Homo sapiens: one gene and its partner. The protein of the gene in region 2 purifies or fractionates together with the protein of the main gene of each other region. This does not show direct contact. Each region holds a gene or a part of one and is shown on either strand. Other genes may lie near its edges.

What was found. The genes of interacting proteins can lie anywhere in the genome.
Region 1: the proteins of ARHGEF7 (region 2) and KLHL2 purify together in Homo sapiens (affinity purification with mass spectrometry; 3 studies listed by BioGRID and IntAct, with this or other methods). This does not show direct contact.

Annotation. Positions count from the first base shown.
Region 1 is NC_000004.12:165,308,534-165,315,560, reverse strand, and holds part of KLHL2 (kelch-like protein 2), read right to left. Parts: intron 5,009-7,027; coding exon 4,811-5,008; intron 4,098-4,810; coding exon 3,996-4,097; intron 2,633-3,995; coding exon of another isoform or gene 2,610-2,632; exon of another isoform or gene 2,485-2,609; intron 2,324-2,484; coding exon 2,195-2,323; intron 1,536-2,194; coding exon 1,395-1,535; intron 1-1,394. UniProt on the Homo sapiens protein: Substrate-specific adapter of a BCR (BTB-CUL3-RBX1) E3 ubiquitin ligase complex that mediates the ubiquitination of target proteins, such as NPTXR, WNK1, WNK3 and WNK4, leading most often to their proteasomal degradation.
Region 2 is NC_000013.11:111,118,298-111,125,324, reverse strand, and holds part of ARHGEF7 (rho guanine nucleotide exchange factor 7), read right to left. Parts: intron 1-7,027. UniProt on the Homo sapiens protein: Acts as a RAC1 guanine nucleotide exchange factor (GEF) and can induce membrane ruffling. Functions in cell migration, attachment and cell spreading. Promotes targeting of RAC1 to focal adhesions. May function as a positive regulator of apoptosis.

The sequences.
Region 1 (7,027 bases), on a different chromosome or scaffold from region 2:
AATTTTGTTATTTGCATAGAAAATAAACATCATTGATTGAGAAGGAAAAACAAACTGAAAAGTAAGCTTTCAGATTTCTCTCTCTTCCTGATTATCAAATAAACTCAAGTAATGTTGTCTAAATCAAAATATGAAACAACTTTTCAACAGAGACTTACGTCTTTTTCCTAAATCCTACCCTTTCCCACACAATTTTTTGAAGAACAGGATAATGGTAGCTCTATATATACAAATTATCTCTTTATTCTTCTACCTAAATGAGTGAATTTTGATATGAAAACAATAAACACATATAGAGAAAAAATAAATTAGTCTAACCTTTAAGAAAATATTCATAAAAAGCTCAAATTGCAACTAAATTTCCTAATCCAGGAAGACACATGCACAAATCACCATGGCTTTTCTAACTTAATGTATACTGGAGTCACTTATTCTACTAAGGACCCATATTTGAGGGTCTTACCATCTAACGAACTGATTACCATATACAACTGACTAGATGACGTGCAAGGCCAAACAGAATTAACTATAAATTCTGGTCTGCTGCCAACAGTATCTGCAGTTCCACATACTTAGTCTCTCTTAGTAATCACCCTTCTTTAAAGAGAAACTAAGATGAGCGCTGATGGAGGGGGGTGTCCAATGGTGTACAGTAAGTTTGAGACTCACCAGGAACTTATTTTACACTATGAGAAATGACATGAAGATAATGGCATTTTGAAGAATCCTAGCATTTCCTGAAAGGCTATGTAGCTATCTTGAGTCTATTTTCCATTTGTATTTCCCTTTCTTGATTCTTCTTTTTAAGTGGTTAGTTCCCTAATCTTGAAGTTCTCTACTTTCTTAAAATTATTTGTTGTTATTGTTGTTGCTTTAGTTTTTCCATTTTTCTGGAAATCCTGAACTGTATTAAGCTAGGGTTACCTTTGCAGACTTCCCCTCTAGATTTAGATAATCAACTAGCTTTTTAACCTAGTATAAATATCTACTCAACTAGACTAAATTTCCTGAGAACTAGGATCTCCAGTGTATGATAGATACATAGTAGGCACTAAATTATATCTGTTGTAAGAATGAATGAATTCAGTATCATTTAAAGGGTCTACACCTAATTTAATTAGTCTCCACATTTATCACCAAAAAGTAGCAGCTAGTAGAAATGATGAGTTTACTGAAGTGTCACAACAACCTGTTATGTTCCAGAGACTATGGCAGGCATTCACTTTATAGGATTATTACATAAGTTTCTGGCTTTAAAGAGTTCAGAGTCTATCAGGGAACCCAGATCAGTAAAAGAACAATGGAAATACCATTGATATTCATTGATAGAGTGATACCAGTGAAACTTAAAATAAAATTCAACATAAGTTTTATAACCTTAAACTGACAGATACCTGCATTTCTTCTGCACATGTTCATATCTGCAACCTGTCTCCATGCGTTAGTGGTGGGATCATATACTTCAACACTTTTTCGTACTAAAGGGCCATCATGACCTCCTACAGCATACAATAAATTGTTTAACACACCAACACCTATAAAACACAACCAGCCAAATAGAGGGGCAAAAAGAACAAGAGATTTATATCATATTAGGTTTATTTAAATGACTTGTAACTAAAACTTTCGAAGTTATAATTCATAATAAAAGCAAGCTGATACTATAGCCTACAATTTAAGAAATGGAAATCAATACAATTGATGATTAAATAAGCATCTCAACAAACTATTATTCTGAAAAAAGAGGCATGTCAAACAGAATAAAAATATTAATAACATGTAGGTGAAACACAGGGAGGGAAAAAGTCCTTTAATGTAATCCTTTTGAAAACAATATCCATAGTAAAATAACCGCATATTAAAGCACAAAATTTTAAGAAATATACATGAAAAGACTTGATTATTAAGCAAGTTCCCCAATAAGCACTAAAAACAAAAAACTAAAAGGAGTGCTAACAACTTGAATATATAAATGAAACAGAAATGTCTATGGCACTTAGACATTAAATTTTAAAGTAAAATTACTTTGTAATTACTCCCATTACCTGCACAATTCAAAAGACATTTAGCAGTGCCACTAAAATCAGCATATCATATATTTTCAGATAATGTAAAGTGATGCCACTGAATCATTTTACTTTAACTATTTTCCATCATTTTTGTGCTTCAGTTGCTAAAACAGGTTCACATGTACCTGCTCCACTCCGCCTGGTGCTCATTTCTGCTATATAGGTCCACTCATTTGTTGTAGCATTATAGCATTCTACTGTGCTAAGACACTGACGTGATGCTCCATCATAACCTCCTACAGCATAGAGCAAACCTACACATAAAATCACATAGAAAGCCAAATTTATTAAAAAACAAACAAACAAAAAACACTAATTTTTCAAGCCAGAAAATATTAATATATTTTCCTTCATGGCAGCAGAGTTTCCCCTTAAAGTGCTGCTGATTTTTATGAAATATATTAGGGTCTTGCCTAATGGTGACAGATGGGGTAATCAAATCATGTTATGAAGATCTGCAGGGTATAGCTGATGATGTTAATTTTATACTTTCATCAATAATCTGATAAAATAGCACACTCATTATATCTTTAGGTAACACTATTTGATAAGTGAACAACATCCTGTAAGACAGAATTAAATACCAAAGTTATCTTAGGAAATCGGAAAAAAGGTTAAATCAAAAATTAATAACAGAATGCAATGCAATATTACTTGGCATTAAAAAGGCATGAAGTACTAATAAATGCCTCAGTATAAATAAACAAATCTTGAAAACATCACCCTAAGCCAAAGAAGTGAGTCACCAAAGATCACATACTGTATGACTAAAATATTCAGAAGAGGCAAATCTCTAAGTGATAGAAAGTAGACTAGCAGTTGCTGAAGGTTGGGTAAGATACGAGTAAGAGCCAAGGGAAGCAGGATTGCTTTTAGAGGATAATAAAAATGTTTTAAAATGAATTGCAGTGATGGATGCACAATGAACTGTATACATGAAATGGGTGAATTGTATGATGTGGATTATATCACAATAAAGCTGTTTTTTTCTAAGTGCACAGATTACACCTACGATGAGGAGGGGGTGGAAACCTGCAAATTTGCCCAAGTCAATTAAAAAAAAATAATAATAATAATACTTAGAGCCTTCCTTAACTTCTGTTGGGAGACAAAGTAGGATATAAATAAATAACTGTGGCAATCCATCCCTTAACAGCCCTTCTCCAGATATAAAATTACACATTTATGTCACCTGAATTGTTCCCCCAAGCAACTGTTAAAATCAGTTGACAGTCTTATACAGCAGCAGTCCCCAAACCGCAGGCCATGGACCGGTACCTGTCTGGAACCTGTTAGGAACCGGGCTGCACAACAGGAGGTGAGCGGCAGGTGAGCAAGTATTACAGCTGAGCTCTACTTCCTGTCAGATCAGCAGCGGCATTAGATTCTCACAGAAGTGTGAACCCTATCTTGAAATGCACATTTGAGGGACCTAGGTTGTGCACTCCTTATGACACTCTAATGCCTGATGATCTGAGGTGGGAACAGTTTCATCCCAAAACCATCCCCCCAACCCACCCCTGTCCATGGAAAAATTGTCTTCCACAAAACCAGTCCCTAGTGCCAAAAAGGTTGGGGACTGCTGTTATATAAGTCAAACACACACGTGTTATATAAGTCAAACACACACAGTTATATAAGTCAAACACACACACACACACACACACACACACACACACACAGAGAGAAAGGAGGAGGGATAAAGGGAGGGGGATAGAGAGGGAGAGAAAAGGCTTTATATAGGTTGATTTATATAGAGAAGCTAATTTTAAAAAGAGGATAACTGAAATTTTACAGTAATTACGACTTTTCTTTTTAAAATGATAATTAGCTTGCCCATTCAGAAAACTAAAGTTGAGATTACTGGAAGAACCACTCTCAAGGATCAAAATGCCACATGTACCTGAAAGAACTGTCAACACCTACCTCCAACAACACCCACACCAACACTGCTCCTCCTTGTATTCATGGGAGCTACATGAAACCACTCATTAGACTTTATGTTGTATGCTTCCACAGATGACAAACCTATAATAAAGCACAATAGTCTTCATTTCCTTCTCTAAAAAATGTCAATAGTTCATATATATGGAAAAATACTTCAGGTATGTTATACTGGGCTAAAATTAAGAGAAGAAAATGGTGGAACATAAACACAGCAATTACATGAAAAACAGGTACAGCTTGTTTTCCAGAAGGCTCCTACCTAAGCTACTGATATTTATAAGCTTTTAAAATTTGATGACTGATACTGATGCATAAGAAAGAAAATTTATATACTCACCACTCATATCATTTAAGGAAATTCTTGATAAAATTTTAAACTTATCTTTAAATACCAGTTAAAACCTCACATGTTGTAATCCCAGCACTTTGGGAGGCCGAGGTGGGCGGATCACAAAGTCAGGAGATTGAGACCATCCTGGCTAACATGGTGAAACCCCGTCTCTACTAAAAAATACAAAAAAAATTAGCCGGGCGTGGTGGCGGGCACCTATAGTCCCAGCTGCTCGGGAGGCTGAGGCAGGAGAATGGCATGAACCCGGCAGGCGGAGCTTGCAGTGAGCCGAGATTGCGCCACTGTACTCCAGCCTGGGCGACGGAGCAAGACTCCATCTCAAAAAAAAAAAAAAAAACACAAAAAACCTCACATGTGCCCTAATGTTGCCACAATTTATTCCATAAACATGACTACTACGTTAATTTTAGCAGCAATGTAGAATAAATGAAAAGGAAATTACCTGTACTCCCATCAAAGCCTCCCACAGCGTATAATAATCCATTTAACACAGCAGCTCCCAAAGTGCTTCTCCGGTCTCTCATGTTAGCAACGCTGGTCCACTGGTCCTTCACAGGGTCGTAGGAATCTACAGTGCGAACTCTTAATGAGCCATTAAAGCCACCAACAGCAAAAACAAGTCCAGCCATGTAGACCATGCCTGCAAAAGGAGTACAGCATTTAATGATCAACATGCAACTCAACTACCACCAATATCCAAAGATTGCTTTCTGATAAATCTATAGCTGTTGTCAGAACATGCTACTCTTAGGAGGAGCCTGATTAAATAAATCCTTGAAAATGCTATTCATTTGCAAGAACATCCAATCACTAAATTGTCTTTCTTTCTAAGGTTATTATTATTATTATTTCTTCCTTTCTTTATTTTGAGACGGAGTCTCACTCTGTCGCCCAGGCTGGAGTGCAGTGGCGCCATCTCAGCTCACTGCAAGCTCAGCCTCCCGTGTTCACACCATTCTCCTGCCTCAGCCTCCTGAGTAGCTGGGACTACAGGCGCCCGCCACCACACCCAACTAATTTTTTGTATTTTTAGTAGAGATGGGGTTTCACTGTGGTCTTGATCTCCTGACCTCGTGATCTGCCCGCCTTGGCCTCCCAAACTGCTGGGATTACAAGCGTGAGCCACTGCACCTGGCCTTCTTTCTAAGGTTATTAAAAAATGCAATGGCATGGGCTAAAGTACCATGTTGACTCTTGGTTTTTTTAAATATCAATTTACAAGCTTAAATAATGAGCCATTATTTTCCAACTACTTGAACCTGTACTCACCTCCCATAGCTTTCAATTTTGGATCTTCTAGTGGATATTCTTAGAATGAAACTCCATACGCTTATAATTTATTTGCATAACGTATTCCTAGTTTATCATGTTAGTGGGCTAAATCAGGGGTCGGCAAATTTACAGCTACAGGCTAAATTTGGTCCAGCGAACTATTTCTGTAGAACCCATAAGCTAAGCATGGTTTTTATATTTTTAAATGGCTGAAAAACAACCAAAAGAGGAATAATATTTCATGACATGTAAAAAGCTATATGAAATTCAAATTTCACCATCCATAAATATAGTTTTATTGGAACACTGCCACACTCATTCATTTACATATGGCTGGTTTTGCACTATAGCAGTAGATAAGAAGCTGTGACAGAGACCATATAACCACAAAGCCTAAAATACTTATTCTCTGGTCCTTCAAGAGAAAGTCTGCTGATCCTTGGGCTAAAGAGATATTACGGAATCAGTGAATGGAGAAACTAGACTGCTAGACTCAGGTTTCAACCATCTTTTCACTTTTCTCAACTTTTTTCATGCTGCTGTCCTAATCGGACAGGCTCCTATCACCATCTACTCTGTTCTCTTTAACTCTGAATCCTCAGTTAAAGTTCCACATTCTCTATGATGCCTTCCCTGTCCACTTTAGCCTAAAAGGGATTATGTCCAGCTCCCGAACCCTATAGCAAATAACATCTATGTTGTGTACTTCAGGTTTAATAAATGTACCGTCTATAATATAATTACTTTAAATTGTTCAAATTTTTATTGTTCTTAGTTCTATAATGTTTATGTCCCTGTGCCAGCCTGAGGGCAGGCAATGTGGCTCACAGTTCTCTGAATCCCTGTAGGGAGAACTGGAATCACCAGATATGTTTGACGAGCTCAATGTTTTGCAGATGTTATCAGGCAAGAGATGTACCTCTGCCCCTTACTGTCTTAACCTCTGGTGCTTTATTCCCCCACCCCTGTAAAAATACACGGAAATGCAGTCCTCCATATGGCAACAAGACCTTTCCAGTTCAGATGAAGTTGCCTGTTTTGGCCCCCTGCTAGCACAGAATTTAACAGACATCCTAAGAGGGCCTGGAGACTCGTGAGCAGCAACATACCAGGCAGCATGTTTCAGCATGAAACAATCCTGTATCCCAAAATCATAACTAACTCCAGGGAATGTTCATTGTGGGAATCTTGCCCATTGCAATTTTCATTTTCCTTTCTCTACCCACAAAATAACACTACAAATATGCCATCTCTTAGAAGTAACATAGTATGCTTACCAAGGTTTAGAGAATTTTAGGTCACAGAGAGGAAGAAAATAAATGAATCAATCTATGAAGTGCCCCCTACCAAAGGCTCTGGGTCTGGAGAAGGGACTGAACTAAAAGAA
Region 2 (7,027 bases):
CATTTCAAATAACCAGCTTCCAGTTTTGTTTTCTCTAGTAATTTTAAAGTACTCAGAAGAAGAGATATGAAACCCAGGGCATAGGACATGGATATTCATTCATATATTCTCACTCTCTCTCTTTTTCTCATCATGGAAAGATTCCAGGTCCAAAGCAGTACAGTAAAATTATTTCAGCCTCACTTCTCTTGAAAAAAAATCCCTCCAAAACAGCCAGGAGAACAAGAAACACAAGCATCATCTTCAATAAAACTAGAAGACACCTGGTTGGGCGCACTGGCTCACACCTGTAATCCCAGCACTTTGGGAGGCCGAGGTAGGCAGATCACGTGAGGTTAGGAGTTTGAGACCAGCCTGGCCAACATGGTGAAACCCTGTCTCTACTAAAAATACAAAAATTAGCCGGGCATGGTGGCGCACACCTGTAGCCTCAGCTACTCGAGAGGCGGGGGCAAGAGAATCACTTGAACCCGGGAGGCGGCCGTTGGAGTGAGCCGAGATCGTGCCATTGGACTCCAGCTTGGGTGACAGAGTGAGATTCTGTCTAAAAAACAAAACAAAACAAAAAAAACTAGAAGACACCTATCCCCAGGCCACCATTATGAAGGCAGGGAGCAGACGGAGGATGGGTGGGGCTTCAGCAGAGACTAGAAGGTCCCATCCCAGTAGCCAGTGGCAAGTGCACCCTCCCAGGTGGTAGACAAGCCACCTGTCTGAGAGTCAGATGCAGGCCTAGGGGCCCCAGCCCCATCACAGCTGGCCACCCCTCTTGCCATCCTTGCAGGGGTCCGAGGCTTATTCTCTGGGGAAAAGTGAACCAAAGAGGCCAGAACATGGAGAGGGCCAGCATGGACAGGAGCCAAGGTGAGGATGGACACTGCTCTGATAGGCAGCAGATGGAGGAGTCTCTGGAGAGACTCACGGCTGCTGGAGAAGAGACCAACAGGTTCAGACTTCTGGGCATCACCAGGCTGCCCCATGGCGAGACCTGCATGTCCCTGGGCCCCAGCAGTCACACAGGACTTCCTGGTCATTTTGAGGGCCTCACACTTGAAAGATCACATGATGTTTCAGTAAATCTCCAACATGGAAAAAAAGAATTGCATAAGAGGACTCAGAGGAAACAGAGACAGTGAATGCAGGGAAGGAAGCACCCTTCAAGGAAACTGTAATGAATGTTCACAGGAAGAGAGGAATCTTCCCAGAAACAGGAAGGGACTGACTGAAAGGGAAGAAACAGAGAGAAACCAGATAACGAGAAAAAAGAACTTTTAGAAATTAAAAAAAAAATAGCCAAAGTAGGTCAAAATAAAAAATGTTAGTAGAAAAGTTGGGAGATAAAGTCAAGGAAATGTCTTTCAGAAGGAGAAGAAACATACAAGTGGAAAGGTCAGCAAATGAGAGACTCAACCCAGCAGGCCTGGCAGCCGCAGGGGCAGGGGGCGGGGCCGGGGGGGGGGGGCGCAGCCCACCAGCCAACGATGGCCAGTTACCAGCCGCTCTGGAGCTCCGTTTCCTAATCTGAAAATGGGGGCGATCCTGTCACCACCTCCCTTATAGGGTGGTGAGGAGGGTTAAATCCATTATTATGGGCAAAGTCCTTAGAACAGTGCCTGGCATACAGTATGCACTCAATAGATATTATCTCTGATTAGTCTTAATAAGATTTCTAAAAAATGAGAATAGAGAAAATACTAGAGAGGAAATTATCAAGGAAATAAAGGATATAGAGGGTATTTTAAACAAAGGTACAAGCACTCTTGTGATTGGGATGGACTGTATTTACATATATCGGCATGTCCCCTAGTTAAGAATGGCACGGGCATGTATGTGTGTGTGTGTGATTTGTTATCTATGGCCATGGTAAACCTCAGTGGCTGGCTTGAGTCAGCCTGGTCCGGGCCTGCTGGTGCAGCTGTGCCTGCTCTGGGCAGGGCAGGCAGCTTGCTGACCCTGGCTGGGCTCTCTTCAATGTTTGAGGTTGGCTGGCTGTGGATAGGTCCAGGATGGCCTAGCAGGGACAACTGAGTTCTCCTCCATGTGATCACACCCCACCAGCACCCAAGCCCTGGGGTCTCCTCGGAGGTAGACACAGGGCCTGAGAGAGTGCAGAAAAGTGCAAGCCTTTCCAAGGCCTGGGCTAGGAACTAACACTGGCCACTTCTGCCACAGTCCATTGGCCAAAACAAGTCACAGCTCAGATTCAAGAAGTGAGGAAGCAGACTCCTACCTCTTGATGGAGGCGCTACAAGGTCACTTTGCCAGGGGCATGGGAGGGTTGGAGAATTGGGGCCACTTCTATCGTCTACCCCAACCCTTCTCCACTCTGCTTTGTGTCCTGGGAGGCTGACCTCTATACACAGTATCCCAGGGCCGCCTCCCAGCACAGGCCTTGGAGCCATTTGCTTAGACTACAGTGTGAACGGTTCTCCCAAGACCGGGCAGTACACAGCTTACACAACCACATGCAGGTGCCCTCAGTGAAGCCATCTGCAAAAGGAGGCGTCTGGGCTGGATGACTCTACATTCCTTCATCCTGAGAACTCACAAATACTTTATACCCAAGATCCTAGCATTTCTCTTCTGACCTGCCTGAAGAGGTGGTATGGCTGGCATCCATGCGTGCGCTTCCATGCGTGTGATTGGGTCACTAGCACGCACACAATAGGAACCTGGTAAAAGGGATGATTAAATGAATTCACATACATGTGTTTGAAATACACTGTGCACACATTCCATTTCAGTTCCCCTCACCGCCTCGCCTTGAGACCCCAGCAGACATGACACCATCCTGCAAAAACAGAGTTGAGAACTGCCAGCCTGGTGCATCAAACCTTAAAAATTCAAAGCTAAAGTTAGAAATATAAAAACATCAAGAGATTAATTCTCCTACCCTAACTTGACAGAACTGATAAAGGAGGGAGAAGTCAGAAGCTGTACCCGGGAAGCAGTCGGACCGGGGCGGCCCCAAAGCCCTCTCTCTGCAGACACCAGGTGGGGCAGGCTGGCCCTCACTTCCCATCTCTGACTCCCGGCCCTGCTGATGCATGAAACTTTATATAAGCGAAACCTGAGTCCACCCGCTCAGCCCTCCCGCTCCCCAACCAGCAGCTGTGTGCACTCAGCAGCTGCGCCCAGATCTGGCGCTGACCAGAGGGCCCTGGAAGCCACGTTCAGCAGGCCCACCAACCCAGACAATGGTGGTCTGTCCAGAGTGGGATGCAGAGGCTGCCAGCCCCCGAAAGTTGCAAGAGTCTGCCCTGTTGTGAGAATTAACCCGTGTTCCTGGATTTGGATGGCTCTGAGGTTCAAATCTTGGCTTACAGTCTTCTGGACACGATGGGGAAGGTTTTCAGTGTCAATCAACAAAACAGTAACTACTGCGTACTGAGGAATGACTTTGTGCCCAGCACATCTACTCATTTACCCTGGTAATGACCTCACTGCCCCCACCAGTGGATATCATTCATCTCATTTTTAGGAGGAAGAAACTAGGACTCCGAGAGGTTAGACAGGTGCCGGAAGTCACAGAGCAAATGGCTGCGGGAACAAAGCCAGGTGTGCCTGACTCTGAAGCACGCAGAGGACCGGGTCTCCCAGTGTCTCCAGGCAGGGACCCGTGGGTTCGGGGGATGCCAGTCCTCCCATCTCCCAGCGATGCACGTGGTAGAGTTGCGTGCCCAAAGGGATGATGTGCCTCTGCCACCTCCCTCGTGCAGTGAGAGACGCGTGGGCGTCAAGCCTACACAAGACTCCAATCCAAACGGCTAAAATCCACCCTACACAAGAACAAACGGCTCTGCCCCCACTCACCTCACAGCCCCCATCGCCTCCACTCTTTACATTTTAGAGTGATCAGTGGCCTCTAAAGGGAGAGAGATGTTCGTGTGTACATAGTACTTGAATTTTAAAAGTGTGTGTGGTGTAGATGCACACAGTTTGAAATCTTGGACTAAGTGGAAATCTGGTAAGCCCTACAGAGTAGGGAAGCCCAGAAACTACAGTGAGTTATTGGATGGTACAGGAACACGGAACACACGTTCTGCGGCCGGGGAGAAAGGCCCAGACACAGACTTCTGCAGGAGCTTCTGCAGGTTCCCCCAGGGCAAGGGGCCCTACCCTGGGTGCCTTTGGGGTCTGTCTACTGAAGGGCAGAGCTGCTTCCAGATGTCCCGAGAAGTGAGACACCTGCAGTGGCTCCAGGCACTCCTGAGGGCTCCCACTCTGCCCCTGTGGCCGGTGACCTGAGCCAGCCCCTCCAGTCCTCACTTTTGTCCCCCCTGGGTGCTCAGTTACACTGCTGCCTCCGTCTCCTTTCCTGATCTGGTTTGTAAATTTCTGAAGGCAGTGGTTGCGAATCTTCCCCTAAGTTCAGTATAGGTGGCAGAATCAGTCTTGTTTTCCATGAGAAAGCTCACAGTCTTGAGCTGGAATCTTCCGCCTCCGAGTGCAGCCAGATGACCTGGGGCAAAGCTAACTGCCAGACCTCAGGGTCCTCATCTGCAGTATGGGTATTGCGAGGGACAGCGCCTGCAAACGAGAGGAGCATGCTGCCTGCCATGCTGGGCAGACATCTTATTCTCTTTTAAGATGTATAGAAAGGCAGGCAGTGCCTAAAGAAAGGAGGCGAGCAGGCAGATTCTGGAGTGACTTCTATTAATAGAATGAGGGCCGGGTCCTGAGATGGCATCCTTTGGACTGGGCTTGGAGAGTTCACAGAGCAGCTGCCCCTGAGAAAATGGAATGCCACATGTGCCAGCACTCCTTCCCCCACTCCCTCAACCCCCGTCAGACGTGTCTGTGTGTGCGTGTGTGCGTGTCTATGTACACGCATGTGTCTGTGTGTGTGTGTATTTACATGCATGTGTTTACGTATGTGCATGTTTGTGCAGGCATGCATGCGTGTGTGCATAAGTTCGTGTGTGCACATGCATGTGCAAGTGTGCATGTATGCGTGTGTGTATGCTTGTGTGTGTGCTCTCCTGTGTCTGTGTGATGCCAACATAAACACTAGTTTCTAGTCTGGTTCTCAGGAAATCTCTTCAGGCACTCCTGATTTAAATTGAATTTCAGTTTGTTTGCTTTCTTTTTAGTGAGCCAGCAAATGCAGTTCCAGCTACCTTCTTCCCTAGGCCTGAAACCCAAACAAGAATCACACTGGTTCAGGGTTGAGACAGGACTATAAAGTCACATGCTTCAAAAGGAAATGTTTATTATTGCAAAATTCACTATTCTGGAACCATATTCAGGGTAGTTTAGTTAGAAGCAACTTGATATAACCAGTTATTCAGTTTGCAGGGTTTAAAGAAGTCTCCTTAAAAACACAGTCTGGAGATACCATATTATAACTTCTCTATAAGTGACTTAGCCAATCAACAAGTCTTTATGACGGCTACAGGTCACGGGCCTGAGTGAGAACCTTACCCTACCACCACATGTGATCACTCATCACGTTCTTTTTAGGGCCAAAGGACCTAAGAAAAGGCACATTTCTAGCAGGTGAGCACTTCTGCTTCTCCTCACCCCAGCCCCTAACCAACCCCAGAATCCTGACACTGAGCAGAAAGTGAGTCTCCAGTTTACCTAGAAAAAAGTATTTCCTTTTTTCCTATGCAACATCAGATTTGCTGATTTTCTGCAAGCCTGTGGAAAATCACCTAGGGCTGCCAGGTTACAGTTTGGGAAATGCAAACCATATTCTTACCCACACGTCAGCAAAGTCTTGGGTCTGACCTGCTCAAATGCTGGTCTTTTTAGCTCCTTGATTCTTTTGCTCCTTCTCATCCATATCTGACATTACGACTCTTGACTTCCTTCTGCCTCATGCTGTTCTTGTCTTTCGAGTTACATTTTCTGTACTGGAACCCCCAAGACTCTATTATTTAGGTTTTGCAATCTCCCCTAGCACCTGGCATTGTGCAATCAGATCAATAGCTAATAAACTGATCTGGTTCAAATGTAGAAACAACCTGTCATGAGCTGAACTGTGCTCCTCCAGCATTCGTATTTTGAAGTCCTAACCCCCAGTATCTCAGGATGGGGCCTTATTCAGAAATGAAGTTAATGCAGATGTAATCGGTTAAGATGAGGCCATACTGGGGTAGGGTGCCCCTAATGCAATTCCACTGATGTCCTGCTAAAAAGGAGGAATTTGGACACAGAGAAGAAACCACAGCACGGACATCATGTGAAGATTGGACTTGTGTTGCCACAAGCCAGGAACTACCAGAAGCCTGAGAGTGGCCTGGGACAGACCCCTCCTTGGAGCCTTCTGAGGGCACGAGGCCCTGCAGGTACCTTAATCCCAGACTTTGGGCCTCCAGAGCTGAGAGACAAATGCCTCCACATCCAGCACTAAGACCCGAGGCAGCGTCTGATTTTCAATTACATTCCACAAACACCTAGCCAGGGTTCTCGGGAGCACATCACATGGATTACACAGGAAGGTTCTCTGTGTTCTGTTCTCCTGGGACACACAGAGAAAGAACCAAGTTCCTTGAGTTTTTTATAGTGAGTTAAGAGACTTCATTTGTTGCATTCACAAGTGAAATTAAAAGAGCATTTCATGATTTCCATGATTTTAATGTGTTGTATTAGTCTTATAGAAATTTTCCATCCTCTACAATTCATGTATCTTGATTTCACCTCCTTTGACTAAATACCCTAGGGATGTTTAAAGTGAATTTGTGAGAAAAGGGCTTCCAGGGCTCCCTAGACGTCATGACCTCTGCTCACGGGAGGAGTGTGGGAAGCCGAAGACATGGGCAGCCCAGCCAAACATCCTGACCCCTCCTGGAGAAAACCAAAGTGCAGGATCTCCAGATACAGAGAAGGCGAAAACTTTTTAATCCCATTTTCCTCTCCCCTACAGCAGAAAACATCTGTCCAGTATAATGAAAAGTGTCTCTTTTCTGAACTGTTCATGTAAAGTTTATAATTCCATCTTCTCACTGTCTAACCTTCCACCTTAAAAGCAAAGCGGGAACCTGGGTGGAAAGTTTCCTTTAAATGAGCAGAAGAATCTGAC